5 separate regions of the Homo sapiens genome follow, and all the other regions are linked to region 4. Evidence: fine-mapped expression QTL. A gene starts in region 4. Each other region holds a variant in brackets. All regions are shown on one strand. Distances are from middle to middle.

The links.
Region 1: its variant is fine-mapped to the expression of GDE1 in whole blood (INTERVAL, PIP above 0.99).
Region 2: its variant is fine-mapped to the expression of GDE1 in whole blood (TOPMed, PIP above 0.99).
Region 3: its variant is fine-mapped to the expression of GDE1 in lung (TOPMed, PIP above 0.99).
Region 5: its variant is fine-mapped to the expression of GDE1 in whole blood (TOPMed, PIP above 0.99).

The regions. Positions count from the first base shown.
Region 1 is chr16:19,441,947-19,447,049 of GRCh38, forward strand. It overlaps TMC5 (transmembrane channel like 5), which reads left to right. Exons shown (of 22, transcript NM_001261841.2): 4 at 2,135-2,304. Among named protein-coding and RNA genes, the nearest start is that of TMC5, 27 kb to the left of the region's middle. The variant G/T (reference allele first, on the strand shown) is at 2,431.
Region 2 is chr16:19,494,022-19,499,124 of GRCh38, forward strand. TMC5 (transmembrane channel like 5) reads left to right here. Exons shown (of 22, transcript NM_001261841.2): 20 at 241-345; 21 at 3,100-3,142; 22 at 3,899-5,092. The coding sequence ends at 3,945. It also overlaps the pseudogene RNU4-46P. Among named protein-coding and RNA genes, the nearest start is that of TMC5-AS1, 8.7 kb to the left of the region's middle. RefSeq lists a silencer at 2,489-2,700. The variant T/C (reference allele first, on the strand shown) is at 2,135.
Region 3 is chr16:19,487,645-19,492,747 of GRCh38, forward strand. TMC5 (transmembrane channel like 5) reads left to right here. Exons shown (of 22, transcript NM_001261841.2): 18 at 2,751-2,924; 19 at 4,506-4,584. TMC5-AS1 (TMC5 antisense RNA 1) reads right to left here and starts at 257. Exons shown (of 3, transcript XR_007065016.1): 1 at 180-257. RefSeq lists an enhancer at 364-1,052. The variant A/C (reference allele first, on the strand shown) is at 2,565.
Region 4 is chr16:19,519,446-19,524,548 of GRCh38, forward strand. GDE1 (glycerophosphodiester phosphodiesterase 1) reads right to left here and starts at 2,653. Exons shown (of 6, transcript NM_016641.4): 1 at 2,259-2,653. The coding sequence starts at 2,519. It overlaps CCP110 (centriolar coiled-coil protein 110), which reads left to right and starts at 4,497. Exons shown (of 14, transcript NM_001323572.2): 1 at 4,497-4,643. RefSeq lists enhancers at 1,935-1,994, 2,120-2,854, 2,165-2,334 and a silencer at 2,445-2,614.
Region 5 is chr16:19,381,505-19,386,607 of GRCh38, forward strand. All of the region lies in intron 1 of LOC105371114 (a long non-coding RNA gene), which reads right to left. Among named protein-coding and RNA genes, the nearest start is that of TMC5, 34 kb to the right of the region's middle. The variant C/T (reference allele first, on the strand shown) is at 2,493.

The sequences.
Region 1 (5,103 bases), 77 kb before region 4:
GCATGCGCCACCACGCCCAGCTAATTTTGTATCTTTAGTAGAGACAGGGTTTCTCCACGTTGGTCAGGCTGGTCTCAAACTCCCAATCTGAGGTGATCCACCTGCCTCAGCCTCCCAAAGTGCTGGGATTACAGGCGTGAGCCACTGCACCTGGCCTAAGGCCATTTTTAAGTAGCAAGTCCAGTTTTTCCAGGTTTAGATTCTGTAGATCTAAATTTTGTCTAAAAGATTTTGATCTTCTGTCAATTTTTGTTCCTTGACAAATTTTACCAAATGCAGTTCTGGACACCGACAGCATTAGTCTGGGTTACTTAGTTCTACCAAATCTAATTTTTCCTGGGTTAAGATTTTTCATGTTCACGTTGCCAACAAAATGTAATTTTTTTTTTTTTTTTTTTTTGAGACAGCGTCTCACTCTGTCATCCAGGTTGGAGTGCAGTGGCTCAGTTTTGGCTCACTGCAACCTCCATCTCTTAGGTTCAAGTGATTCTCCTGCCTCAGCCTCCCAAGTAGCTGGGATTACAGGCATGCACCACCATGCCCAGCTAGTTTTTGTAGTTTTAGTACAGACAGGGTTTCACCATGTTGGCCAGGCTGGTCTTGAGCTACTGACCTCAAATGATCTGCTTGCCTCGGCCTCTCAAAATGCTGGGATTACAGGCATGAGCCACTGTGCCCAGTCTAAGATGTGATTTTTTAAAGTCAGTTTGTGGTTTAATCAGTAACAATGTTTGTCATGTGAAGTTGTAACCAATATGAGTTTGATTTTGCATTTACTGTTTCTACTAGTAATATTTATGAATTTGATAAAAAACTGGTGGCTTGTATTTATCTCTAGGAACAAGGATATAGGACTTGGGCGTGCAGCAGTCCTGATGTCTTTAGAACCCAAATAGTAGGGTTAACAGGACCAGGTGAAAATGTCCTCCTTGGTCTTATCACCCACTGCCTGATTCATCATTCCAAAGCCCACCTTTGATCCTATCACTCCTTTGCTTTTCATCGTCCATGGGTCCCCATAACCTTTGGAGAAAGGCCACCCAACTTCACTTATAGAATGTTTATGAATAAGGATACGTCGTGTTAATGTAAGATGCCAGCCAAAGACCAGCCTGACTGATCTCCTCTTAAGTCTCCTGTCTGCCCCCTGCCTTGACCTTATACTCTAGGTCAGTGGTTCTTGACTTTGGCTGATCCTTAGCATTACCCAGTTATCTGGGGAACTTTAAAAATAATACAGATGCCTCAGTCAAACCTTCAGAACTTCTGATTCAATTCTCCAGGACAAGGCTTGGGAAGTGGTATATGTAGTAAATTGAGAATCATTACTCATCAGTTGATTTTCATAGCATTTCCTTTATATATTCAGCACTTTCTGGCCTCACACCTTTTTTTATGCTGTTCTTCATCCTTGGAATGCCCTCCCTTTATGTATGAATGTGTCTTCTCAATCCCTGCTCAGATGTATCTTTTCCATGCAGATTTCTCCCAAAACTCTCAGCAAGAATTATCTTTCCTCCGAACTCCTTGGGCCTGTCTTCAGATACTCACCAGTTTCTACTTGTAGTATAATTGCTCATAGCTGTGTCTAAGAAGCTGTACCAACTTGTACTGTGAGCTTCTTGAGGGCAGGTACCCCATGTTTTCCTCTTTGTATTCTCACCTTCTAGCCCATGCCTAACTCAGGGTTGGCATTTAGTCTGCATTTGTGGAATGGAATGGAATGGATGGATGGATGAATACATTAATGAATGGATGGATACATGGATGGATAGATGAATACATGGACGGATAGATGGATGGATGAATGTATGTATGGTTGGATGGATGGATGGTAAATGGATGGATGGATAAATGGATGGATGAATACATGAATGAATGGATGGGTACATGGATGGATGGATGAACAGATGAATCAATGGATGGATGAATGGATGGATGGATGGATAAATGGATGGATAAATACATGATTGAATGGATGGATACATGGATGGATGGATGGATGGATGGATAAATGGATGGATAAATAAATGGATGAATACATGATTGAATGGATGGATGGATGGATGGATGGATGGATGACAATCCTTACTATACTCTTGGTTGGATAGTGATCCATCATTTTGGATTTTAGGGTGCTCAGCAGAACATCTTCAATCCAGCCCTCATTTCGTCACAGGAGTGATGACCCCGTGGGCAGTCTTTGGGGAGAGAATGATTACCCTGAAGGCATTGAAATGGCATCCATGGAGATGGCAAACTCATATGGCCACTCTCTGCCAGGTGCTCCTGGAAGTGGCTATGGTAAGCATTTGTTAAGCCAGGATCATATCCTGGGAAAAAACTGAAATCACTGGATTTAGGGGTGCAATCATTAAGGAGACTTGGCAATAGGAGAATTGGTGTATCCTTCCAATCTCAGAGACCCTT[G/T]TTTTTACATACAAAAGTTGAGAATTCAGTGTTTAGAGAAGCCAAGTTAATTGTCATCAATTATAAAAAAAATGCTAGGTAAGAGTTGTGGAAAATGGGGACCTGTGCACTCTGTTCCTACCAGAGTTGGTGAAGCTCAGTCCATGGTGGTTATGTGGCAATGTGGGCTCAATGTGGCAAGATCTTCATATTTTTCAGAAGCCGTGTATTTGGGGTTTTATGTGAAACCTGATGTTGATCTGTTCCAAAATAATTTTTAAAAGTAAAAACAGTGAGCTGGGCAAACAAAACCACATTTTTTGTTAGCTGCCAGTGGCCACCTGTAGTTTAGCATATCCTAAAGGCATTCAGGCAATCAGCACGTATGTGTTCAGAACCTACTGGGGGAAAAGGGAGTTAAGAGGTAGCTCTGCCCTCATGTTATTTAAAGCCTAAATAGGTCAACAAAAGTGCCACATCAAGACTAAAGAAAAGGCTGGGTGTGGTGGCTCACGCCTGTAATCCCAGCACTTGGGAGGTCGAGGCGGGCAGATCACCTGAGGTCAGGAGTTCGAGACCAGCCTGGCCAACATGGTGAAACCCCGTCTCTACTAAAAATACAAAAATTAGCCAGGCATAGTGGAGGGCACCTGTAATGCCATACTCGGGAGGCTAAGGCAGAAGAATCACTTGAACCCAGGAGGCGGAGGTTGCAGTGAGCCAAGATCGCACCACTGTACTCCAGCCTGGGCAGTAGAGCGAGACTCTGTTAAAAACAAACAAAAAAAAGACTAAAGAAAGTTAGCAAGCAAACTATTAATATTTGAAAAATCATGTTGTCCTCATAATTTGTTGTGTGTATAGATAAGATGCTTAGCTCCAGGAGGCAAAGGAAATTCTAAACAGTTTTTTTTTTTTTTAAGACAGTGTCCTGCTCTGTCACCCAGGCTGATCATAGCTCACTGCAGCCTCAAACTCCTAGGCTCAAGCAATCCTCCCACCTCAGCCTACCCAGTAGCAGGGACTACAGTTGCATGCCACCATGCCTGGCACTTTTTTTATGCTTGAGAAAGATGGGGTCTTGCTATGTTGCCTGGGCTGGCCTTGAACTCCTGGCTTCAAGCAATCCTCCAGTCTCGGCCTCCCAAAGTGCTGGGATTACAGGCTTGAGCCTGGGCCAATTCTGAACAGTTCTTACTTTCTAGGAGGAAAAAGAGACATGTTCCAGGAAGCCGTTTGATGGCACAAGAGAAAAAAAAAATCCAGGCCATGTTAAAGGAATTTGGAACCTGTGGAAGTCAGAAAAGGGAGAAGGTGTTCAGCCAATAAGAAGAGAACAAGAGACCCAAGTGCTGGGAGGTGCAGATGGAGGATTGATGAGCCTTGAGGAGTAGATGGGGCAGGTCTGGAAGAAGGCAGAGAGGAGGGGACAGGATGCATAGCCATGTACTAATGAAAACACTGACTGTTAACACATAGAAAATTTTCATTCCGGGCCTAATTTTAAAAATTAGCTGGGCGTGGTGGCACACACCTGGGGTCCCAGCTACTTGGGAGATTGACACAGGAGGATCACTTGAGCCTGGGAGGTTGAGGCTGCCGTGAGCCATGACTGTACCACTGCACTCTGGCCTGAGTGACAAAGCGAGACCCTGTCGCAAAAAAAGAAAGGACCGGACAGGACAGGACAGGAAAGGAAGGGAGTGGAGGGGAGGGGAGGGGAGGGGAAGAGTTGGGGGGAGGTGGAGGGGGAGAGAGGGAAGGAAGGAAGGAAGGGAGGAAGGAAGGAAAAAGAAAAGAGAATATTCCTTTGGGAGCACAGACATCAGATAGCCCAGGGCTATTCCAAACCTTTATTCCAAGCATTCCTCCACAGGGGCAATAGAAATCCCAAGGGGGGAATATCTGCTCTTGAAAGGCCAGAAAAAAATCTCACTCTTGATGTATAAAGCAGGGATACACATGTAGTACACAAACGGATACAGTATATCTTTGGTATTAAAACTTCTTAGAGGACGGCAATGAGGAAAAAATGTCTCCCCTGCTTAAGGGGCTGATAATGAAACAAGATTGAGACATACTGTGCTACTCCAGTGCAAGTGGAACGTATAACTGCAAGCAAATCTTGAGTGTTTCCTATGCCCTGGAGTCTCTGTCCAGCACTTGACTTTTATTATCTCATTTAATCTGTACAACTGCCTTTCAGGCAGGCACTGCCACTCTCCCTGTTTTAACAGATGGGAAAACTAAGACTTAGAAAGAAATATGCACAAGGTCACTCACTTACTAAATTGACAGAGCCAGGATTGAATCCCGTCTCTCTACCCAAAACCTGACCTCTTATTTACCCTGCATTACTGCTAGGTTGAATCAGGGCAAATACAAACAGATTCCTGACCACAAAGCTCTATAGAACATTGGAAGATAAAATACTTAAAAAACAAAAAAAGCAGGTCAGTATAGCTCACTTCTCTGGGATCTTTTGTAGGGCAAAGTTTGCAGCCCTTGGCAATCACTTGTCCAGTGTCACCCCATCCTGATAAAGTGTTCACTCCTTAAGGAGAACCTGTATTCATCTATGTACCCTCCAAGGCTCTAGGTGCTCTTCCTAGTGTCACAGTGCCTGGCCCACAGTAGGTGCCTGAAAAATATTAACTGAGTTAATAACAACAACAACAACAACAACTATAAGAG
Region 2 (5,103 bases), 25 kb before region 4:
CCTGTTAGGGGAATTGCTTTAGAGGAGAATATTACAGTGCAGGAAGGCTCTGGGGGATAATTTGGTTTTACTGTGAAATGTTTCTTTTCTTTCACCAAAAGATGGCAGTAACCTCCATCCAACTTCTAGGATCCTAGCTGCCTGAAAACCGACGTTCTTCCCATCAATTGCTTTCTCAATTCCATACCATCATTCATTCATATTTTTGTTTCTTTCTGGTTTTGTTTTCCTTCTTGGTAGGAGGGCAAAGATAAAATGTTCCTGATAGAAAAATTGATCAAGCTGCAGGATATGGAGAAGAAAGCAAACCCCAGCTCACTTGTTCTGGAAAGGAGAGAGGTGGAGGTGAGTCTGGAGGCTGCCTTGGGGACCCCTGGGACACGAGCTTGCCTCCATGTAAAAAGCGCGTCAGAGAACTACAGACCAAGCTCTTGGGATCATGGAAGGGCCCTTCACTCTCTGTCTTAAGTATTTCTGTGGTTTTTACTTAAAAAGTAATATTCATGGCCAGGTGCAGTGGCTCACGCCTGTAATCCCAGCACTTTGGGAGGCCTACGCGGGTGGATCAAGAGGTCAGGAGTTTGAGACCAGCCTGGCCAATATGGTGAAACCCTGTCTCTACTAAAAATACAAAAGTTAGCTGGGTGTGGTGGCACGCACCTGTAGCCCCAGCTACTTGGGAGGCTGAGGCAGAAGAATTGCTTGAACCCAGGAGGTGGAGGTTGCGGTGAGCCAAAATCATGCCACTGCACTCCAGCCTAGGTGACAGAGTGGCACTCTGTCTCAAAAAAAAGTAATATTCATTTTTTCAGCACTTTTCATGCCTGTACTTTTTCTAGGTGCTGGGGTTACGGTGAACAAAACAAAGCCCCCGCCCTCATGGAACTTGCACGCTTGTTTTTCACAACCCCGATAATACAGAAGTAGATCCCACTGAGATGAAAAGGGCCCTGAAATCTCATCTCACTATGAATACTTCAGTGTCTATTCTTTTTTTTTTTTTTTTTTTTTGAGACGGAGTCTCGCTCTGTCGCCCAGGCTGGAGTGCAGTGGCGGGATCTCGGCGCACTGCAAGCTCCGCCTCCCGGGTTCACGCCATTCTCCTGCCTCAGCCTCCCAAGTAGCTGGGACTACAGGCGCCCGCCACTACGCCCGGCTAATTTTTTGTATTTTTAGTAGAGACGGGGTTTCACCGTTTTAGCCGGGATGGTCTCGATCTCCTGACCTCGTGATCCGCCCGCCTCGGCCTCCCAAAGTGCTGGGATTACAGGCGTGAGCCACCGCGCCCGGCCTACTTCAGTGTCTATTCTTGCAAATCTATTTCCCTAGGCATCTGCAAACATACCTGTATCTACCAACACTTTAATTTACTTGTTTATTACAAAAGTGAGGCTATATTATACAAATAGTATCATAACTTCCCTCCCCCGCAGCCCACCACTAAATACTATATCTTGAACGATGTTTAATTCTGTACATATTTGGATATTTGGGTTGTTTCTATGTTTTTAAATACTTAAAACAGTAGGTAATGAAACATTTTGTTACAATTATTTTTTGTGCGTTTATAATCGCAGCTACTCAGGAGGCTGAGGTGGGAGGGGAGGACTGCTTGAGGCCAGGAGTTTAAGACCAACATAGCGAGACCCCATCCCTTAAAAAATTTTAATAATTAGGCACGGTGGCATGCAACTGTAGCCTCAGCTACTCAGGAAGCTGAGGTGAGAGGACTGCTCAAACCCAGGAGTTTGAGGCTACAGTGAGCTATGATCCCATCACCGCACTCCAGCTTGGGAGACAGAACAAGACCCTCTCTCTAAAAAAAATTACCCTGGGCACAGTGGCTCCCTCCTGTGATCCCCAGCACTTTGGGAGGCCGAGGCGGGCTTATCACTTGAGGTCAGGGGTTCGAGACCAGCCCAGCAAACATGGTGAAACCCATCTCTAGTAAAAATATAAAAAACAAAAACAAACAAACAAGAAAACTTAGCTGGGTGTTGTGGTGCACATCTGTAATCCCAGCTACTTGGGAGGCTGAAGCACAGGAAATCACTTGGACCCAGGAGGTGGAGATTGCAGTGAGCCAAGGTCACACCATTGCACTCCAGCCTGGGCAACAGTGCAAGACTCCGTG[T/C]CAAAAAAAAAAAAAAATTAAAAAGTTATTTTTTGTGAATATTTCTGCCACAAAGCACGTACATGACAATGTTAATAGATATTGCTATATCATTCCCTTAAAAAGATTTAATCAATTTCATTCTTACCAAGAGAATATAAAGATACATGAAACCCTGCTCTAATTCCAAAGCCTTGCTTGCTTCCTGAGTGTCCTGAAAATACAGATGAACAGTAAATCCACCTTAACGCAAATACCACTTATGTTGGAAATTGTGATCTTGACAGAAGTGACTGACAAGTAATTTACCATCTGTGCAAATTTATACTGTCAGCACAATTTAGGTAAGGGATCTAGAGGCCTAAAGGTAGATTCTCTGAAGGTGAGGACCACGTCTGTGCACTTGTCACCCCACGTCCTAATTTATTACCTGGCATAATATGAATGCTCAGTGAATATCTGTGGAACGGCCAGGTGCGGTGGCTCACGCCTGTAATCCCAGCACTTTGGGAGGCCGAGGTGGACAGATCACTTGAGGTCAGGAGTTTGAGACCGGCCTGACCAACATGGTGAAACCCTGTCTCTACTAAAAATAAAAAAAAAAAATTAGCTGGGCGTGGTGGCAGGCACCTATAATCCCAGCTACTCCAGAGGCTGAGGCGGGAAAATCGCTGGAACCCGAGAGGCGGAGGTTGCAGTGAGCCGAGATCATGCCATTCCACTCCAGTCTAGGAGATAAAGCAAGACTCTGTCAAAAAAAAAAAAAAAAAAAAAAAAAAGAGTATCTGTGGAATGAATGAATGGAATCACTCTCCCTAAAAAACAAAACATGTTCAATATTTCTATGGCGGAGACTTGGCCTTAATCTCTCATCCCTTAACTTCTATAAAATGGTGAGGGGCTCACAAATTGTGCCAAATATGTGACAAGACCCAGAATCTGCATTCTTCCTCCGTGACGTGGCTGCTTGTTTTTTTCTTTTTCAGCAACAAGGCTTTTTGCATTTGGGGGAACATGATGGCAGTCTTGGTGAGTAATTAAACTGGGACAGAATAAGACACTAATTTATTTCTGGTGAAATATCCTAAGACAAGTGTAAGAATTGCTCATGTGTCCATTACTTTTTCAGTTGCAAATTGGATCCAAACTGGCTTAAACAAAATTCCAAGAATAATTCTTGCTTTAGGCCTTGCCTAACGCAGGAACTCACAGTGTCACCAGAACCCGGTTTCTTTCAGTTCCGTTCTTACCCATGTTAGTTCCTTTTGCAATAGACTCTGCCTAATAAGTGCAAGACAGCTTTATCAACTTCTTATATCTTCTCAGAGTCAGTCTGGTGGGAAAGACTGAGGGACCCAGGATTCTCACGGTGTTTCATAGGATCTGACTGGGTGATGTCCCCGTCTATGAACCAATTGTTGTGGGTGCAAAAATGTGGCAGTTCCCTTGATCACATGATTTCATCTGTAGATGCAGGTGGTGCAACCATGAAGACCATAGGGACCAAGAGTAGGGAAGGGTGACTTCCTAAAGAAAATCTGGGGCTGATGCCAGGAGAGCGAATTCTGGGCAGGAAACAAACAAGCAAACCCATTTATTTTTGGGGGATAGCATTTACTGATGACTTCCAGTGATGGGAGTTCAAGGGAAGGATTATAGAAACTAAAAGGAAGAGGCAAAGAAGGCATGAGAAGCTATGGAATCTTGAAGGCAAGCTGGTCTTTCCCTTGTAGAGATGGGGCAGAGTGTGCCTGCGTTAACTTCTCTTTCCTGTGTCAAACCTAGACTTGCGATCTAGAAGATCAGTTCAAGAAGGTAATCCAAGGGCCTGATGACTCTTTTGGTAACCAGACACCAATCAAATAAGGGGAGGAGACGAAAATGGAATGATTTCTTCCATGCCACCTGTGCCTTTAGGAACTGCCCAGAAGAAAATCCAAGGCTTTAGCCAGGAGCGGAAACTGACTACCATGTAATTATCAAAGTAAAATTGGGCATTCCATGCTATTTTTAATACCTGGATTGCTGATTTTTCAAGACAAAATACTTGGGGTTTTCCAATAAAGATTGTTGTAATATTGAAATGAGCCTACAAAAACCTAGGAAGAGATAACTAGGGAATAATGTATATTATCTTCAAGAAGTGTGTGCAGGAATGATTGGTTCTTAGAAATCTCTCCTGCCAGACTTCCCAGACCTGGCAAAGGTTTAGAAACTGTTGCTAAGAAAAGTGGTCCATCCTGAATAAACATGTAATACTCCAGCAGGGATATGAAGCCTCTGAATTGTAGAACCTGCATTTATTTGTGACTTTGAACTAAAGACATCCCCCATGTCCCAAAGGTGGAATACAACCAGAGGTCTCATCTCTGAACTTTCTTGCGTACTGATTACATGAGTCTTTGGAGTCGGGGATGGAGGAGGTTCTGCCCCTGTGAGGTGTTATACATGACCATCAAAGTCCTACGTCAAGCTAGCTTTGCAGTGGCAGTACCGTAGCCAATGAGATTTATCCGAGACGCGATTATTGCTAATTGGAAATTTTCCCAATACCCCACCGTGATGACTTGAAATATAATCAGCGCTGGCAATTTTTGACAGTCTCTACGGAGACTGAATAAGAAAAAAGAAAAGAAAAGAAATTAGCTGGGTGCGATGGCTTATGCCTGTAATCCCGGCACTTTGGGAGGCTGAGGCAAGCGGATCACTTAATGTCAGGAGTTCAAGACCAGCCTGGCCAACATGGTGAAACCCCGTCTCTACTAAAAATAAAAAAACTAGCTGGGCGTGGTGGTACATGCCTATAATCCCAGCTACTCGGGAGGCTGAGGCAGGAGAATTGCTTGAACCTGGGAGGCAGAGGTTGCAGTGAGGCGAGATTGTACCACTGCATTCCAGCCTGGGCAACAGTGAGACTCTGCCTCAAAAAAATAAATAAATAAATAAATAAAGTAAATTAAAAGTCTTATTCAAACCAAATATGAAACTGG
Region 3 (5,103 bases), 32 kb before region 4:
TGAGCCAAGATTGCACCATTGCGCTCCAGCCTGGGTGACAGAGTGAGACTCTGTCTCAATAAATAAATAAATAAATAAATAAATAAATAAATAAATAAATAAATAAATAAATAATGTAGGTATGGTGAAGCCCAACAGGTCAGGAATGACCATCACTAAAAAGATAGTTTATTACTCACAGTTCCTGAGAAGAGGGGGCACTCTATGCCACAAGGGACCACACAGGGAAGCATCAGGGTTGTTCAGGAGGCAGAGGGAGTGAGGGGAAACGGGCTAGAGGCTTTATTGTGGTTTTCTATGGTAAGGAATGGGCAAGGCAGGGGAAGCAGGTTTAGGGTTGGCTGGTTTGTCAGTAGGCTGTGGGATATGGATCCGCCCTGAGTTGTCTGGCACCTGGCCCTGGGGTGATTAGGGCAGGGGAGTGGTGGCCCAGAGTGTGAGAGCCTGATAAAGGGGGCGGTTGCGGGTGTGGGATCTGGATTGGTTGGTTTGCATTTGAAAGGTGTGCTTTGTAAGCTAGCCCAGGGAAGGGCAGCTAGCCCTGGGAGCTGGAGTCAGTAAGACCCCAGATGTCAAAACATCAGAATAAAAAGACATGCTTAATACAGTGCCTAACTCAAGTTCCCTGGCTAACCAACAGACACTAAAAGCCAGGGAGGGAATGCATCCTAGTTTGATCACCACCCATCCGATGCCCACGGTCAGGAGTAGCTTTCTCACTTCTGCCAAGAACTGAAGCTTCCCAGAATGGGGAGATGCCCCCCCACCCCGTTCCTCCACATCCAGAACAGAACTTCATCTAAATTAACAGAAAGGCAGGACTCATCTGGCTCCTCCCACCTCTCCAACCCCACTTCCCTTTGGCTCCACTGTTCCCCGCCCCACCACCCTCACCCCATTCCTGGAAGCCAGCAAGCCCCTCCCAACAAGGGCAGAGTCCTCTGAGTGAAGTCCTTTTCCCACTCCCTTTGCTTGGCTGCCTCCTCTCCACCCTCTGATTCTCAGCTCCAAGGCCCTCTCCAAGATCTGATCTTCACAGCCCTCCTTGTCTGCTCTCAGTTCCCCACTGCTTCTCTCTCTCAGACCTGAGTTTCTTTCCTTCATTCTATCATTCATAATCAGGAATGCCTCTGTGTGAGTCTTTAATTGTTACTCAACGATTGTCCGTTTTTCCCACCAGAATGTAATCCCAATAGGGCAGGAACTTGCTTAATATGAAGTCCCCAGAGCCTGACTAGAACAGTGCTTAACAGAATAAGCCATGGTTGAATGAACAATTGAATGAATTAATGAACAAGGGAGATGATTTTTAGGACACATGTGAAACTGGGGCTCTCAGTTCCTTGCTCCACAACACCCTTGCTCCTCTTGGCATATCCACTCTCTTCTCTCTCTTCCTTGCTCCACAACGCCCTTGCTCCTCTTGGCATATCCACTCTCTTCTCTCTCTTCCTCACCAGTTCCTTGTTGCCCTATAGTTTCTGCTCATTCCTCCATAGCTAACAGGCTTCCCTCTTTATGCTTCTTAATTCAATTTCTTTCTTTGAGACAGGGCCTTGCTCTGCCACCCAGGCAGGAATGCAGGGGCGCAATCACAGCTCAAACTCCTGGGCTCACGTGATTGTCCCACCTCAGCCTCCCGAGTAGCTGGGACTATAGGCACACATCACCATGCCTGGCTAATTATTTTTTTATTTTTTATTTTTTTGAGACAGAGTCTCACTCTGTCATCCAGGCTGGAGTGCAGTGGCGCAATCTCGGCTCACTGCAAGCTCCGCCTCCCAGGTTCACGCCCTTCTCCTGCCTCAGCCTCCTGAGTAGCTGGGACTACAGGCGCCCGCCACCACGCCCAGCTAATTTTTTGTATTTTTAGTAGAGACAGGGTTTCACCGTGTTAGCCAGGATGGTCTTGATCTCCTGACCTTGTGATCCACCCGCCTCGGCCTCCCAAAGTGCTGGGATTACAGGCATGAGCCACCGCGCCTGGCATGCCTGGCTAATTTTTTTTTTTTTTTTTTTTTTAGAAATGGGTGTCTTGCTATGTTGCCTAGGCTGGTCTCGAACTCTTGGCCTCAAGAGATCCTTCTGCCTTGGCCTCTCAAAGTGCTGGAATTGCAGGCGAGCCACCATACTTGTCTTTAATTTCATTTCTTTTTTTTTTTCAGACAGGGTCTTGCTCTGTTGCCCAGGCTGAAGTACAGTGGTGTGATCACAGCTCACTATAGCCTCAACCTCCTGGGCTCAAGTGATCCTCCCACCTCAGCCTCCTATGTAGCCAGGACCACAGGCATGTGCTGCCATGCCCAGCTAATTATTTTTTTGTAGAGATGGAGTCTCACTATGTTGCCCAGGCTGGTCTTGAACTTCTGGGCTCAAGCAATCCTCCCACCTTGACCTCCCAAACTGTTGGGATTAGAGGCATGAGCCATAGTGCCTGGCCTTAATTCAACTTCTTAAGAAAAAAAGTCTGACTGCCCCCATTCATATCATTGAGCCAAGTTACTGCAGAAGTCACTGCTTGGCCTTTGGATTGGCTGCTGTTGGGTCAGCTCTGATCTGAGAGC[A/C]GGTCCTTAGAGTACAGGTCACCCCAGCAAGGCTGAGAGCAAGAGGGTTTCTTTGGGAAGTGGGTGTGATTGGATCAGGCAAGACTTGATGTTTTCAGGCCCAGAGCCCAGAAGGGACACCCTGATTCTAGAATAACCATCCCTGAGTCTTGTGCTAGAGATGTTCTTCCATCTTTGTTTTACCAGATTGAAGCCTTCAGCTGACTGTGGCCCTTTTCGAGGTCTGCCTCTCTTCATTCACTCCATCTACAGCTGGATCGACACCCTAAGTACACGGCCTGGCTACCTGTGGGTTGTTTGGATCTATCGGAACCTCATTGGAAGTGTGCACTTCTTTTTCATCCTCACCCTCATTGTGCTGTGAGTGTGGTACCCGGGGAATCTAGCAGGGAAAGCCAGGAGCTCTCGAGGGAAACAGCAGTAGGGATGTTTGGTTGGAAAGCAAATGGCTATAGCATAGCTCAGTGTTCTGGGTGACTCTACCCTTGCATAGGTAGTTTTCTTTCCTTCCTTCCTTCCTTCCTTCCTTCCTTCCTTCCTTCCTTCCTTCCTTCCCTTCCTTTTTTTCTTTTCTCTTCTCTTCCCTTCCCCTCCCTCCCTCTCTTTCTCCCTTTCTCCCTTCCCTTTCCTTTCAGTTCCGTTCCTTTCCTCTTCATTTTTTCTTCCTTCCTTCCTTCCTTCTTTCTCCCTTCCCCTCCCTTCCCTTCCCCTTCTTTCTCCCTTCCCCTCCCTTCCCTTCCTTTCCCCTTCCCCTCCCTTCCCTTCCCTTCCCCTTCTCCTTCCTTCCTTCCTTCCTTACTTCTCTCTTTCTTTTTTGGTTGAGACAGGGTCATGATCTCTCACTCAGGCTAGACTGTAGCGGCATGGTCATGGCTTGCTGCAACCTCAACCTTTCAGGCTCAAGCCATCCTCCCACCTCAGCCCCCAAGTAGCTGGGCTTGCAGGTGTGCACCACTACACTTGGCTAATTTTTAAATTTTTTGGAGAAATGGGGTCTCCCTGTGTTGCCCAGGCTGGTCTCAAACTCCTGGCCTCAAATTATCCTCCTGCCTCAGCTTCTCAAAGTGTTGGGATTACAGGTGTTAGCCACCTTGCCCAAGCTTGCATTGATAGTTTTTTTGAAGTTACTTAGCCTGGTGCAGTGGCTTGTGCCTGTAGTCTGAGCTTCTTGGGAAGCTGAGATGGGAGGATTGCTTGAGCCTAGGAGTTTGAGGCTGCAGTGTTCTCTGATCGTGCCACTGCACTCCAGCCTGGGCAACAGAGCAAGACCCCATCACTGGGGGAAGGGGGGAAAGGTTATATATACTATCTTCTTGTCTTAGGGATTTTTTTTTTTTTTTTTTTTGAGACAGAGTCTCGCACTGTCACCCAGGCTGGAGTGCACTGGCGCGATCTCAGCACACTGCAAGTTCCGCCTCCTGGGTTCATGCCATTCTCCTGCCTCAGCCTCCCGAGTAGTTGGGACTACAGGCACCCACCACCACGCCCAGCTAATTTTTTGCATTTTTAATAGAGACAGGGTTTCACTGTGTTAGCCAGGATGATCTCGATCTCCTGACCTCAAGTGATCCGCCCGCCTTGGCCTCCCAAAGTGCTGGGATTCCAGGCATGAGCCACCGTGCTGGGTCATCTTAGGGACTTTTTTTTTAACTTATTCTATTAAGAAAGCAATACCTGCTTTTCTCCTCTTAAGGAGATGACATGCCCAGAGATGCTCAATTAATTGGTCTGAAGAGGAGCTGTGGCATGGGCTTATTTCCCCCTTCAGGAACCATTGTTCCAATGTATTTAACCTATAACTCTCCCTGACATGACTTTTCAGAAACATGTTTGGGCCAAATCCATCTGCAAGCACAGATTCCAGTTCCTTTGCATCCAGTGGAAATTCAGAGCCTGCAAAACATTTGCAAGAGTGTCATTCTTTCTTTTCTCCTCTTCCAGAATCATCACCTATCTTTACTGGCAGATCACAGAGGGAAGGAAGATTATGATAAGGCTGCTCCATGAGCAGATCATTAATGTAAGTCCCCTTGGATCCCTCTGATGTCCGCCCTCACCCTTTTTAAACGCTGTATAAACATCCTCCAAAATAAAGAGAATACTACAATGAACTCTCATATCCCTGCTCTCAGCCCTAACAACCATCAATGTTTTTATATTCTTATTTCATCTACACTTTCTCTTCCCAGCAAATCCCTTATTTTTATTCTTAGTATTTATTTATTTTAATTATGATGATTATTATTATTATTTTGAGATAGAGTTTTGCTCTTGTTGCCCAGGCTGGAGTGCAGTGGTGCAATCTCGGCTCACGGCAACTTCTGCCTCCAGGGTTCAAGCGATTCTCCTGCCCCAACCTCCCAAGTAGCTGGAATTACAGGTGCCTGCCACCATGCCCAGCTAATTTTTGAATTTTTAGTGGAGACAGGGTTTCACCATGTTGGCCAGGCTGGTCTCGAACTGCTGACCTCAGGTGATCCACCTGCCTCCCAAAGTGCTGGGATTACAGCCATCACACCCAGCCTTATTTTATTTTTTT
Region 4 (5,103 bases):
GTGCATATATATATATATATATATATATACATACACAATACTTAATAGATTACAATATAGTGTAAACATAACTTTTATATGCACTGGGAAACCAAAAAATTTGTGACTCCCTTTATTACTATATTTGCTTTATTGACTATTTACTCAGGTCTGGAACTGAACTTGCAATATCTCCTATATATACTAATATGTGAATTAGAACCAGGGATTCATCTTTTTATCTCAATTACTGGAATAACATAGAAGTACTGGTAAAGCTGGCCAGGCAGTGGCTCATGCCTGTGATCCCAGCACTTTGCCTGTAATCCCAGCACTCTGTAATCCACTGAGGCAGGTGGATCACTTGAGGTCAGGAGTTTGAGACCAGCCTTGCCAACATGGCAAAACACCATCTCTACTAAAAACAAAAAACAAAAATTAGCTGGGAGTGGAGGAGTACATCTGTAATCTTAGCTACTTGGGAGCCTGAGGCACAAGAATCGCTTCAACCTGGGAGGTGGAAGTTGCAGTGAGTTGAGATCGCCCCACTGCACTCAAACCTGGGTGACAGAGAGAGACCCTGTCTCAAAAATAAATAAATAAATAAAATTATTGGTAAAGTCGAATGTATACATACATATATACATTTCTGACAGTGCTAGAATTTCTGGTAGATTATAAATGAGATATAGAAGGAAAAACTTGATAAATGTGAGTTGAGTGTATTCCAAAAACAGATACACTACTATAAACAGTGGCAAAGGAATGAAATTACACCCACAGTACATTCTCCACATGGGCCAGAGTGCAGCTTTAAAAGTATAAATCTTGGCCGGGCACGGTGGCTCATGCCTGTAATCGCAGCTACTCGGGAGGTTGAGGCAGTAGAATCACTTGAACCTGGGATACAGAGGTTGCAGTGAGCTGGGGTTGCGCCGATGCACTGTAGCCTGGGAGACAGTGAGACTTCGTTTAAAAAAAAAGAAAAAAAAAAAGAAAAAAAAAGGAAATGAGGGAGGCCAGGCATGATGGCTCATGCCTGTAATCCTAGTACCTTGGGAGGCCGAGGCGGGTGGATCACTTTGAGGCCAGGAGTTTGAGACCAGTCTGGCCAACATAGCAGAACCCCATCTCTACTAAAAATACAAAAATTAGCTGGGCGTGGTGGCACACGCCTGTAATCCCAGCTACTCCGGAGGCTGAGGCACGAGAATCGCTTGAACACGGGAGGCAGGGGTTGCAGTGCGTGGAGATTGCACCACTGCCCTCCAGCCTGGGTAAAAGAGTGAGACTCTGTAAAGTAAAAAAAAAAAAAAGAAGAAGAAGGAAGGAAGAAGAGAGAGAAAAATAAAAAAGAAGAGAATCAGATATATTTACACAGATGCAAAAGTGCCTAATCCACTGAAAAGCCCTCTCTGTAAGCTGTCATTATTATGAAGCTAGGAGAATGCCAAGAGCTGGGAGGTATCAAAAGTTTCAGGAGTGCCTTGTGAAAAGGAGGGGGCAGAAACTGATGTGAGTCCAGCTGCCAGGGTTGTGCGAGTGCGAATGTGTGTGTCTGGGGAAAAGGTGATAAGGAAATGACTCAAGTGATTTACAAGACAAGCAAACGTATGTCTTGTGAAGGGTGATCTATTTAGACTAACCTCAATTACTGACCAAGAACCTATTTGACCTGACCCATTTTCTACTTCATTCACACACCAGTCTTTGTTCTCTTCCTTGAAGTCAGGCCACACACTGCCTCTTCTGTTACCTGAACACCCCTATATTATTCCCATCTCAGGACCTTCTGCACCTGCCTGGCTCCTTATAATTCCGGTTTCTGTTCAAATGTTGCTTCTTCGGAGACGATTTCTCTTGACTATTCCATCTAAATAAAATAGCGTAACTCTTTCCTTCGAGTTCCCCCGATTTCTTCATTGCACCTTTCACTCTCTTAAAGTTATCTCATTTATGTGTTTACTTGTTTAAGGCTTGCCTCCCCCATTCCGATGTACACTCTGTAAACCAGGGACACTTTTGACCTTGTTCCTGGCTGTATGTAACCTTAGCGTCAGGCGCACAGAAACTATATACATATCTGCTGTCTTCTGTAAATATAAAACCTCAAGTCCGGAGATCCCTAGACACTGGGAGCGATCAAGGGCCGGGAGTGTGCCTTGTGGACGAATGAGGAAGTGGGAAGGCCGTCCTGAGAAGATCGGGGAACCCTGGGAAGGAAAAGTAGAAGTCCGAGCTCTCGGGAGGACCGAGGGGCGCGAACGTGGGGGTCTCACCTGCCGAATGGCCGCCAGCGTGTTCTCGGGCGCGTCGTGGCTGCCGCCACGGTGGGCGATGGCAGAAATGCGGTCCCGGGGCTTGAGCACCTGCAGGGCCCTGCAAGAGGGCACCGGCTCAAAGCTGAAGACGCGCAGTAGAACGAAGAGGCTGCCGGTGAGGAGGCAGGCATTGACCGGGCTCCGCGTCACCAGCAGCAGCACTAGCAGCAGGAAGGAGAAAGGGCCCAGGAGGCCGCCCTGGTCCTCCCACAGCCACATGCCGGCGCCCGCACCGGCACGGACGGGAGTCCCGGACCCGCCGGGCTCCTGGGGCAGTAGAACGAGAAGCGAGGGGGAGGGTCCAAGGCACCGGCAGCAGCAGGAACCCTCTGAGGGGACCAGCGCCGCACAATGGCGGCAGCAGACACATCCAGAGAGGGAGTCGGCCGCCCAGCCAATCAGGGATCGGGATTCGCAGCGCCAGTGGGCGGAGCCGCTCCATGGCAACGGGGGAGGGCCCAGGCCCCAGGCCCCAGGCTCACGTTCCAAATCTAAGGTGGGTTAGGGTTTTCCGAGGTCTGAACTTCAACCTGGGCGTTCAGACTCCTAGGCGAGAAAAGGAGGGATAAGAACCATCCTAAAGCTGTAGGACTGGAAGGGATTTTAGTGACTCCTTTATCTGCCCTTGAGGAAACTGAATTCCAGGGAACCTGGAGAGGCAGGATGCTTAGACTATCAATTCAATTCAATTCAATTCAGTTCAGTTCAGTTCAATTCAAGATGTGCCAAATACCGGTCCAGGTGCTCCGGACACAGTTGAACAGGACCTACAGGGTTTTTGCTCTTATGGGATTCACATTCTTGTGGGAGGAAATAAAAGTTAGCAAGTACACCTAACGTTTACAGAGCACTTACCATGTCCCAGGTACTTGACGAGCAAACACTTTATATGCTTATCTCATTCTCAATACAGCCTAACAGTTACTATCAGGAGACTGATTTCAATCGACTTTATTTTCCAGATTCTGGGGGACTGGAAGAGCCTAGCAAAGAAGGCACAATCGGATTATAAAACTGGAAGGGGTTTTAAGGATTCCCTTATTTCATAGATGCGGAAACTGAGGATAGGTGAATTAAGCAGTTAATGGCAGGGTGGGGACTGACATAAAGGCCTCCCCAGTGATTTGTGACATTTTCACTCCTCCTCCCCCTAATCTTACTTCTGCTAAGGGCTTTTGTACCAGGCACTGTACAGGAGTTACCTCAACTGTGCCTCACAACCACCCTTGTGATAGGCACTTTTAAAACCCCCATTTTACATATGCAAAAACAGGCACTGGAAGGAGGGTAAGAGAGATAGACCATGAAGCCGAGTTAGGGAGTGAAAAGGGGCCCCTGGACATATTTTGGAGGGCTGGTAACATTTTTATGTAGAGAACTTTGCAAAAATATTCAGGGATTTTTCTGTTACCTTTTTTTCCTTTAGTGCATTTTCCCACTGATTTGCAAAAGGGGATAGATGTCTTAAGCCTTCCAGTTGGCATCTAGGATTCAGCCTTTTTTTTTTTTTCTTTCAGACAGTCTCACTCTATCGCCCAGGTTGGAATGCAGTGGTGCAATCATGGCTCACTGCAACGTCGACCTCCTGGGCTCAAGCGATCTTCCGACCTCAGCCTCCCGAGTAGCTGGGATCACAGGCTCGCGCCACCCCACCCGGCTAACGTTTAAAATTTTTGTAGAGATGCCGTCTCCCTTTGTTGCCCAGGCTGATCTCGAACTCCTGGGCTCAAGCGATCCTTCCGCCTCGGCTTCCAAAATGTTGGAATTATAGGCGTAAGCCATCACGCCCGGTGGGTTCAGCAAGTTTTTACCTACAAGAAAATATTTTGGTGAATGTTACATGTTTTCTAACGGCTGCATAGAAAGGGGTTATCTTTATACAGATAAGAAAAAAATGGCAACTTCAAGGAACACTTCAGGGGGCTTCAGACCCTGAGGGGTGTTCCTATTCTACTAAATAAGTAAATTTATTAATAAATTCTAGTCTCTAGCTTGCAAGGAAGACTACGTTTCCCGGCGTGCAGCGTGCTGGCCGTAAGCATTACGTCCTCCATCGCGGGCGCGCAATGCACCTCGGGGATGGTAGTGTTCTGGTGGCCCAACGGTTTTAACAGCCCGGGAATCAACCACCGGAAGTGCCGGCCCTGAGAGGTGGAGTCGGGGTGGCAGCGGCGGCGGTTGCCAGGAGCCCGCGTTGCAGCCTGAGATCCGTAATATGGCGGGGAGGAGGAGGAGAAGGCGGCGGCGGACCGAGCTGCGCTCTGTCAGTACCATTTGAGCCATTCGCTTCCTGACAAGGCCCGTGGCGAGGGGAGAGGAGCTGAAGGGGCCGTGGGGGATCAGGTGTGTGCATGAGGAGGGGGCTTGAGCCTTGACGGGTCCGGGCTGAGAGGTGGTCTGGCGAGGCGAAATTGGCGCCCTGAGAAGCTGAGGGCGGGCTCTGTGCTGGGCTCCCGGGCCTCGAGCCCCCTGGAAAGGCGCCGGCTGTTGGGAGGCGGGACCCCGGGGGCAGCCAGCACCGGGCGCTGAGGTGATGCTCCGATGCTGGCCCCGCCTGGAGGGCCCTCGGTTTGGAGTCTTAAATCGGAGGAGCTGGAGGAGGTGGGCATGGGGCGCTGGGGAGAGGGCAGGGGGCCGTCCCTGGTGAATAAAACTCGGGCCAGAGCCGGAGAACCCCATCGTGGTGATCAAATTGTTTGGGCCGTTTTTCTTCTCCCTCCCACGGTGCTGGAGAGGGAGGCTTCCCCGGGGTGTGCATTGGCCATTTATGAGCCCCTGTTTCCACAACCAAGGCCCTAGGAGC
Region 5 (5,103 bases), 140 kb before region 4:
ATCCCTTTCCATGTTGGATGGAGCTAAGCGATCTGTAGGATATTGCAAAAGTGGCAACATATAGCTTCCAAGCATAGATCATTAAAGATGTTGTGTCTTTCTCCTTGCTCTCTCTTGAGCTGCTCTCTTGGGGAAGTCAGCCATCCTGTTGTGAGGACGCTGAAGCAACCCTGTGGGAATATCAGTGTGGTGAGAAACTGAGGCCCCCAGCCAACAGCCATGCGCGTGAGCTGCCTTGGAAGCCTGACTTCACACATCCACCTGATGACTTCTGGAAGCCTGACTCCACGTGTCCACATCTGCTCCATCTCCTTCAGAACTAGGCTGTTGGCCAATGCCCCTGTTTGTGTCTTGCTATTTCACTTGGACTATGACTAGGATTCAGGGGGCAAAAATCACCAATTATGGTGAATTCATGTTTTAGTTGATGCAGCTCCCATCAGCAAGGGCTTTTGCCTTTTTTAATGAAAATACCCACCTGGCATGGTGGCTCACACCTGCACTTTGGGAGGCCGAGGCAGGTGTATCGCTTGAGCCCAGGAGTTCAAAACCAGCCTGGGAACATGGTGAAACCCTGTCTCTACTAAAAACAAACATTAGCCAGTCATGGTGGTGCACACCTGTAGTCCCAGGTACTAGGGAGGCTGAGGTAGCAGGATTGCTTGAGCCCAGGAGGTGGAGGCTGCAGTGGGCCATGAGCATGCCACTGCACTCCAGCCTGGGAGACTGAGCAAGACCATGTCTTAAAAAAAAAAAAGAAAAGAAAGAAAAGGAAAAAAGAAATACCCAAAGCCTGAGCTGACCTGGTGATTCTGCCACCCCTGCAATCCTGATTGAATAATGCAACCCAAATTGGTCATAAATTATTCTCATGTAATTTGAAATCATCTACCACAAGGAGAACAAACACAAAAACTGCATAATCTCACAGCTTGCTGATAAGAACAGAGGGCTTACCAGTGGCAGTGAGGGCTTGGTGCTTGCCCTTGAAAGTGGAGTTCTCATCTGGAATTTCTATAATAGACCCAGAGTCAACAGCCAGGTTCATGCCTGAGGGACCTCAAGGACCATACTGGTTGCTCTGTGAAATGACTACCCCTGGCTTTTGGGAGGTTTAGAGATGACTTGAGCTCTTCATAACTAAAAACATCCATGGCATTTGAGCCTCACCCAATCTCTCAACTTTGTCATTCCCTGGGGATTTAGGGTGCACCGTTGGCTGGGGAACCAGCTGGCTAAAGAGAGAGGCAGTGCACCTGAGACTGTACATGAGCCCGGGCACCTGAGACAGGGAATCTGAGACAGTACTCTCTGTACTTCTTTATCCTCCTCTATAAAGTGATTCTAATAATAGCATCTACCTCTGTAGAAGAAAAAATTATTCAATGGCACATGTTAAAATACGGTAAGGCAGATTTTTCAGGACCATCATGATAGGTATAGGGAACATAGTAATGAAATTTTGCAATGGGAGAGAGATTGGGCTCAGTCTTAAATGGCTGGCCGGCTAAGTGGCTGACTGGGAGGCTGGGTGAGGGGTAGGCTGGGAGGCTGGCCGAGTGGCTGTCTTGGAGGCTTGCCAGCAGGCTGGCTGGCCCGCTGAGATGCTGGTGGGCTGGCTGAGAAGCTGGTCGAGAGGCTAGCGGGCAGTCTTCCTGGCTGAGTGAGAGGCTGGCTGGCTGAGAGTCTGGCTGAGAGGCTAGCTGAGATGTCGGCTGGCTCCGTCTGGGTTGGATGAGGACACTTTGGAGGAGGGAGCAGGAATAAGGAAGATACCCTTACCACCTGCTATCCCCCAGAGCTGGGAGCACCCGGCGCTGAGGGTGGGAGGCGGCAGTGACCGGGCACAGCTTATAGCACCCGGCTCCCTCCGTGCACCCTCGGATGCCAGGAACACCTTCCCTATGAGCACTCCCCATGGCCCTACCGTGGTGGACTGCGGGCCGCAGTCTCTATCTTATCCTCAAAGGTTTTCTGTAGATCTAAAACTGTTCTAAAACAGAAAATTATGTGTGTGGGTAAGTAATTTCCTGGCTCAAAATAAAAGCTATTTTCATTGTGGTTAAGGGTAAGGTCACTGGATGAGAACCTGGTTTCCGATTATTTCCTGTGTGAGCTGGACCACATGCCACAACCTTTCTGAGCCTGTTTTCTCATCCATAAAATGAGGATATAAGACTAGAGCTTAGGTCTCAGGGCTGTGGCAAGAACAATTGCCTAGAGGCAGCCTATATTTCCATCGATAGGAGATGGATTAAATAAATTTTGACACATCTGTGCAGCAATTACCTCTATATGTAGATATATAGAAAATTATATTTATAGAAGGTTTATTATTATTATTATTAATATTCTGAGATGGAGTCTCTGTCGCACAGGCTGGAGTGCAGTGGCGCAATCTCGGCTCTCTGCAAGCTCCACCTACGGAGTTCACGCCATTCTCCTGCCTCAGCCTCCCGAGTAGCTGGGACTACAGGCGCCCGCCACCACAC[C/T]GGCTAATTTTTTGTATTTTTGGTAGAGACGGGGTTTCACCATGTTAGCCAGCATGGTCTCGATCTCCTGACCTCGTGATTCGTTGGCCTCGGCCTCCCAAAGTGCTGGGATTACAGGTGTGAGCCACTGCGCCCAGCCTATAGAAGGTATATTATGAAGTGAAAAAGCAAGGTGGAAGCTAGACATAGTGGCTCATGCCTATAACCCCAGAATTTTTGGAGGCTGAGGCAGGAGGTTCGTCTGAGTCCAGGAGTTTAAGACCAGCCTGGGCAACATAGCAAGACACCCATCTCTACAAACAATAAAAAAGTAAAAATTAGCCAGGGATGGTGGCACATGCTTGCAGTCCTGGCTACTCAGGAGTCTAAGGAAGGAGGATTGCTAAGCCCAGGATTTCAAGGTTACAGTGAGCCATGCTCATGACACTGCACTCCAGCATGGGTGACAGAGTGAGACACTGTCTCAAAAACAAAACAAAACAAAACAAAACAAAACAAGATGCCAGGTAAGCCACCTTTGGGGTTAAAAAACCAAGAATATATGTGTATATGTTTGTAAATGCATCATACATCTCAGGACAAGGGCAGGGAAAATTTTACTGATTACCCCTTTTTTTTACTAAATAGACATATTACTAATACATGCTCAAATTTTAAAAAATGATCTTTAAGTCTGTGGCACAGAGGAAGTGTCAGGAAATGATGGCTATTTCTATTGTGAGACAATTCCTCCCTCTTCCCTTCCTTACTGGAGGCCACCTCCCCACCCCCAGTCCCAGCCTGCAGATCTGGAAAGGGATGGGTGGAACCCAGTTGTTCCACGTATGGAAGATGGAATGTGATGGAGGCGAGTGGTGACTGTGCAGTGACCTTAGAGAGAAGACCCAGCACTTCCTGCTGGCTGCACCTGGCACCTGGCACCTGGCACCTGGCCCTGACTTGGATCTGCACCTGAGCCAGGGAGACCTCAGTTTTTTTCTTCCAGGAGCAGAAGAATGAACCAGGTTCCTGAAGGAGACTTCCCACTCCCAGAAGAGGAACAATTTTACAGGAATAGAAATTGGATAGTTCTTCAGGAAACAACAGTCTCTTAAATCTCCTGTTTGAAGGAATAGAAGACGACCATTTAGGAGGATGTCTTTGTTCTCAGGAGGTACCTAGAAAAGTAGCTGGGATTGAGGTAGGCTAAAAGATGTCTCCCGAAGATTTCAGACCCTAATCTAAAAAAAAAAGTGTGAACATTACTATGTAGTGAAGAATTACTTTACTCACAGAGAGGTCTATCCCTTTGCCTCCAGCTCCTGGGGGGTGATCTCTAAGCCCCTGAGATGGACATCTTTATTTACCTGGATCCTTGGGTGACATCAGATAATTTAGCAATGTGATTTATGGTGGAGCTTTGTGAATTAGCCAACAAATGTATGATAATTTGTTGCAGCAGTCACAAGAAACGAATACAGGAATGCAGTTTCAAAAAGTCTGTAATTAACTCTCATATGGCTCAGAGAGAAGTAGGAAGAAGCAAGTCTGGTAAAATGTGAACAATTAGTGAACTTACATAAAAGGAATGTGGTTGTCTATTGTACTGTTCTTGCAAATTTTTGTTGGTTTGAAAATTTTCAGAATAAAAGATGGAGGAAGGAATAAAAATACTCATTTAAAACATTACAGTATAGGCCGGGTATGGTGGCTCATGCCCGTAATCAACATTTTGGGAGGCTGAGGCAAGAGGATCGTTTGAGGCCAGGAGTTTGAGACTAGCCTGGCCAACATGGCAAAACCCTGTCTCTACTAAACATGCGAAAATTATCTGGGTGCGATGGCACACAACTGTAACCCGAGCTACTCAGGAGGCTGAGGCAGGAGAATCTCTTGAACCCAGGAGGTGGAGGTTGCAGTGAGCTGTGATCACACTACTGCACTCCAGCCTGGATGACAGAGTGAGACCCTGTCTCTAACAATAATAAAAATAAAATAAAATAAAACAAAACAGCATGGAAAAGTCCAGGATCTTCAAATATTGCTGGAGTATTACTGCCAAGCCCAATGTAGTCAGAAGTAGGATTTGAACATTTAAATGCATCCTTTGCTGATTGGACAGAATGTAACCTTTAAAAATTATTTTCCTTCTTATACAAACAGCAGGGTTCCTTCTTCATCACTGAAGAATAAGATGGCATGCTTCAGACCACAGCATCAATGCCCATGCCAGGTAGCTTCACTTTGTGGTTCCTGGGTGATGGCTCTGTGTTCCCATCCAAATCTCATACTGAATTGTAATCCCCAGTGTTGGAAGTGGGGCCTGGTGGGAGATGATTGGATCATGGGGGTGGTTTCTAATGGTTTATCATCATCCTTCTAGTGGTGTCTTGTGACAGAGTTCTCCTGAGATCTTCTTGTTTAAAAGTGTGTAGCACTTCCCCTAAGCCTCTCTCCTCCTCCTTCTCCTGCCATGCAGATGTGCCTGCTTCCCCTTTGCCTTCTGCCATGATTGTAAGTTTCCTGAGGCCTCCCCAGCCATGCATCCTGTACAGACTGTGGAACTGTGAGCCAATTAAACCTCTTTTCTTTATAAATTAGCCAGTCTCAGGTATGTCTTTATAGCAGTGTG